Regions from separate parts of the Homo sapiens genome. Here region 2 is linked to region 1. Evidence: fine-mapped expression QTL. Tissue or cell type: whole blood. Region 1 holds a variant in brackets; the other region holds the start of a gene. All regions are shown on one strand. Distances are between the middles of the regions.

The links. PIP is the estimated chance that this variant, and not a neighbour inherited with it, causes the effect.
Region 2: it holds the start of C1orf226, and the variant in region 1 is fine-mapped to the expression of C1orf226 in whole blood (GTEx, PIP 0.97).

The regions. Positions count from the first base shown.
Region 1 is chr1:162,254,295-162,256,980 of GRCh38, forward strand. All of the region lies in intron 2 of NOS1AP (nitric oxide synthase 1 adaptor protein), which reads left to right. Among named protein-coding and RNA genes, the nearest start is that of MIR556, 87 kb to the right of the region's middle. The variant T/A (reference allele first, on the strand shown) is at 1,061.
Region 2 is chr1:162,380,365-162,383,050 of GRCh38, forward strand. C1orf226 (chromosome 1 open reading frame 226) reads left to right here and starts at 1,364. Exons shown (of 2, transcript NM_001085375.2): 1 at 1,364-1,854. The coding sequence starts at 1,538. RefSeq lists a silencer at 2,015-2,309.

The DNA.
Region 1 (2,686 bases):
AGGCAAAGAGCTGGGATTTCTGGTGACCAGGAGCAGTTTAGGAGGATGCTGTTGGATGGGACTGACATGAACCATTGTGGGTGAATGTGCAAACGTGAGTGTTACCACTGTCCCATGTGACTAACCCTCCCCAGCAGGGGCCAGTGGTTTTAAAGGGCAAAGCCATGGGCCTGCTAGATGATGATGGAGCACGAGAGACATGGAATTCAGAGCTAAAGCTGGCAAGCTGGCTCCTCCACCACTTTGCTGGCAAACATGTTGGCCATTTTAGGGTAAGGAGTGGGAGGCCTTGAGAATCTCATGGATGTGTTTTCTACAGTAGCTAGCGTGTCACAAGAGGATGCGACTGGTGAATGTGTACAAAGGAGAAGGGACATGAGGAAAGTGTGCTCTAAATTAACTACCACAATACTTTATAGTATGCCATAGTTTATAGCATATTACAAATTATACTCTAACTGTAGATCACTATAAGCTGGGAACAGGGCAATGCATTTTACCAGTACAATCTGTGGTATGGGTGGTGTTATCCTCATATTGCAGATAAGAAAGATTGAGGCTTAGATGTTTAAGTGACTTCTTGGCACTCACACAGCTGGTAGATTCCTTATCTGGGATTTAGATTTAGATCTTTCTCCAAGTCCATATTCTTTCTATTATTCCTTCTTCCTCTCTAAAGAGGCTCTTTGTGGTCCATTTCAGTTTGGACGTTCTATGATGTTACCAAATATTTTCTTCAAAAGGTCTTTCAAGAAGCAGTTAGAGCTCCAGGAATAGTACAGCTTGAATGTGCTCATCAGTTAAACACATTCACATCTCCCTGGGGCTGCGGAGTCAGGAGAGTTAATTAGCATCTGTCAGGCAGTTCTAAAGTACTTACAAGGGCTCACAGATGACCTTGAGGAACATTTTATTTTGAGGTGGCTCCTAGAGTTTGTTTTATAGATTGGTCACTTTCCACCCCCCTCACTCCAAACTGGGAGCTTTTTATTACAACAGGTCTTTCTCCAGAAGCTGCATCTTTGCTGCAATTTCCTGTTTCAGCTGGCCCTGGCCAAAC[T/A]GAATTCAGTGTCCTAGACTCTTCCCCAAACAGTGTTCTCCTCTCTTGTGGCTCCTTTTACTGTTTCAGGTCAGGAGACCCAGACAGTTGGCCCAAGGTAGGGATTTCAGATGCATAGGTTATTTGCTGCTGCTGATTTTTTTTTTTTTTTTTTTTTTTTTTTTTTTTTTTGGTAAGATAGGTAATGCATTGCTCTGAGCTATCCACATTCTCCAATTTCCTCTCTCCAGACTTTCCACTGCTATGTGTAAGATGCTGATCAGGGCAGGCATCTCAGCCAAAATGAGAGCTGTAATCGATGGCCATGGAACCAGCAAGGTCAAATGGATCCTTTAAAGAAAGACCTCTGTAGCATTGTGAACTCACTGGCAAAATCTAGTCTCACAAACAAGAGAAACGTTGGTGAGGGCAGGGGTGGAAAAAAACTATGCCAGTGATTATTTTCTGCTTAAGCACTAACCCAGTCTTTATGGGTAGGAATGAGGGAAATAAAAATTGGGTAAATTGATGCTGGGTGCGGTGGCTTACGCCTGTAATCCCAGCACTTTGGGAGGCTGAGGCAGCAGATCACCTGGGGTCAGGAGTTTGAGACCAGTCTGGCTAACATGGTGAAACCCCATCTCTACTAAAAATAGAAAAATTAGCCAGGTGTGGTGGCAGGTGCCTGTAATCCCAGCTACTGGGGAGACTGAGGCAGGAGAATTGCTTGAATCCACAAGACGGAGGTTGCATTGAGCCAAGATCGCGCCACTGCATTCCAGCCTGGGCAACAGAGTGAGACTCTGTCTCAAGAAGAAAAGAAAAAAAAAAAGAATTGGCTAAATTGGAATAGAGGTAAGCAGACAGGGGACAGATAGCATCCTCAGCTCTCCCCGTAGTCCAGCCTATGAGAATACATCTGGCATTATTACAGAGTGTCTGAATGATTATTTTGCTCTTCTGTCATCTGATGTGTTGAAAAACACTCCTGCAATTGTTTTCCTTACATTGGCTTCTGGGCTGAACTTAATCTTCTAATGGATTTTACTCCCTTTCCAAAAGGTCTTTGTAACAATCTAACTCCTTGTGAGTCCTTGGGATTTTCCCTTGTTGGCCAATCCCCGCACCGATTGTGGACACTGTTTAATTTACTGTCTCCTTTCAGACTGCCTGTGAAGATTAACTGTCCTTGAACAACAGCATCACTCATTGTACTTGGCCACATTTGCTTCACCTTTCTCAACTGCACTGTTTTCCTTCCTTGTCTCTTAGGCACACACACATACACAAATCCATGTAATTTGTTAATTCCCCCTCTCATAGATACACACACACAAATGCGCGTATGTACATTAACACTCAAATGTGTAGCATATATGAAGTAACGGGGTCTCCTATCTCTTAAGAGCAGAGTAGTTGATGTTGCAAATGTCATTTCTCATGAAGTCTTAGGATCTGAGTTTTGAAATGCCAGGGACGCCTTTTTTTTGTTTATTTCTGGTCATCTTGAACCAGATCCCAGAGTTGCTTGTGAATGTGTCCCTCATTAAGAAATCACTTCTTTGAGATGATCTCTTAGTGATTCCAGACCCTTTAATCATTTAATAGTTCAAAGTGCCAACCACTTACAGGGCATTCTCTTCTCCA
Region 2 (2,686 bases), 130 kb after region 1:
ATACCTAGGTAGTTGGCCTAGAAAGGATAGCACCACTGAAACCACAAGAAAGGTTTTCACTGGCCCGGGATACAGCAGTGCAGGGCAGAAAGAACTGCTTTACACAAAAATTCAGCAGAAGAAAAAGTACACCCTAACCCCAGTTACTCTTAGAAGAGGCTCAGTGAAAATAGACACTTAGCAGAGGTGTTCACAAGGAAAGGAGCCTAGTCATCAAATGATCGAGCGATCTCCTTTCCTCAGACTGACAACATATCTGGGGTAGTTGGTGTAGACAGAAACCTTGACCCAGATTCCAAGGCCTCAGAGTGGGTCTGGCTGCCTGATGACTGAGCTGGATTTCCAGATAGGGAGAGGATGGCCAAGTGTGAGTGTGTGGACAGCATGGCTTAGAGCCTGGAGCTCCAGTCATTTCAATAACAAACCTTTAAGCTACCACCTTGGCCACCACAATTTTCTATCTACAAAATGGGTTTTGGCGATTCAAGATCTGTATTGAGCACAGCTAGGTACCAAACCCAGGCTAGGTGTTGAAAATACAAAGATGAATGAGGCATGCTCTCTGCCTTGCAAATCTTTACAACCTAATGGGTTTATACCCAGCTCTTTGAGTTAATTTTTCAAGCCAAAGAGGATCCCTACAAGAAGGACCATGTACCAGGCATATATAGGCAGCTGTTCCATGATCTATAGCAGGGCAAAGTTGTGGACAGAGCCCTGAGCTGTGGGTTAGAAGGCCTGAGTTCTAGCTCCAGCCCTGCTAGTATTTAGCTGTGTGACCTCAGGCACGGCACTGCATTACGCGGAGTCCTGCAGGCTTCATCTGTAGGTAGATATCCTTCCATGTACCACCTCCCTAGGTGGTTGTAAGGATTAAGTAAGCTGATGTTCATTGGGATCCTCGTGCTTCACTGGCACCGAGTTCCTATCCATTTGGTACGAACTGATTCTGAACCACCACTTAGCACCTCTGCAAGAGCTGGCCCACTCGCTCAAGGCCCACCTCTGTAGACCTGAGGAGCTGCTGCCCCATTTTTTGTGGAGAATATGTGCTATACTCATGGCCTTCAGTGGGGAGCTTCTAACACCAAGCCTCATCCATGCCATCCCTCCACCAGCTTCCAACCCACTGAGAGCTCAGCACGTGCTTACGGTGATGTAAAAATGTCATGTTTCATTGCTTCATCCTCATTTTTTCTTTACTCCAAAGGGCGTGGTGACTCCAAGGTAAAGGGGCCAAGCCCATGAGTCAAGGAGGCAGGTTTACAGGAACAACTTTATTTTTTTATGGCTAGCATTAGTCACTGATTAACTTGGGTGGGGCAGAGCTAGAATTTCTAGTTCCTGTCCCATCAAGAAAACTACACTGGAAAGTTCAAGAGTGTCTTTGCTGGCTCTTTCTTGAATATTTCCAAAGCCTTGGAAGTTACAGGTTTTGGGTGTGGGATAAGGAAAAACTGAATGATAGAGCACAGGTACCGCTCCCCTTTCCTCATCATGCCTCTCTGTCGCCTCTTTGTTCATAGTTGACCACGGCATGTTTGAGAATTTGAACACAGCCCTCACTCCAAAGCTCCAGGCCAGCCGCTCCTTCCCCCACTTGTCCAAGCCCGTGGCCCCCGGCTCTGCCCCTCTGGGCTCTGGTGAGCCTGGGGGGCCAGGACTCTGGGTGGGCAGCAGCCAGCACCTCAAGAACCTGGGCAAAGCCATGGGGGCCAAAGTGAATGACTTCCTGAGGAGAAAGGAGCCCTCCAGCCTGGGCAGTGTGGGTGTGACAGAGATCAACAAGACTGCAGGAGCACAGCTGGCCAGTGGGACTGACGCGGCTCCAGAGGCTTGGCTAGAGGATGAAAGGTGAGCCCCTCACCCGCCCAACATCCATGCCCCTCTGTGGACCCACTTGAAAAGGTACAGGGACAAACTGCAGTGTCTGCACAGGAGAACAGCCCCAAGGGAGGGGTGTGAGATTGTCCTGTACTGAAAAGCTGCAGGATCAGGCCACGTTCTCGGGAGCTGGCTTCACCTTCTGCAGCCACAGCTGAAGGTTGCTGAGTGCCCACCATGTCCTCGGCTCTGTGCTGCTGAAGGTTGCTGAGTGCACACCATGTCCTCAGCTCTGTGCTGCAGGCTATAGTTGCATCATTTTGTCTAACCCTCCCAGCAGCCCTGGGAGGTAGATGATATTTCCATCCTGCAGATAACTCACGTTCAGACAGACAAAGTAAATAGCTTGAGGTCACAAAGATAGTACTTGGCAGAGCTGGATTTGAACCCAGCTATTGCCCAGAAGGTCCCCAGGTAGATTCTGATGCCCGGCCATAGCTGAGAAGCGCTGCCGTAGACTGTTGCTTGTGGAGAAGCCTGCACCTGTCACAGCCCACTAGGGCACAGTGGGAGAAGCCCCCTGTAGCAGCCCTCCTGTTCTTCCCCCTCCTACCAACAGGCTCTTTCCAGGCCTTGTTTTAAACACCTGTGCATCTGAGGTGGGAATGCCCTCACATTCCCTGTTTTAAACACAGGACTTACTGCCTGGGTTCTGATTTGACAAGCTTCACCAGCGGTCTCTATCCTGTCTTCTAGAGGCCAGCACTTTGTGCTGCTCTGAACACTGAGTAAGCATGGACCAGGCCAAAAGCTACTGTTATGCTGAAATTGCTAAGGCCTATGTGCCAAACCAAGAACCAGA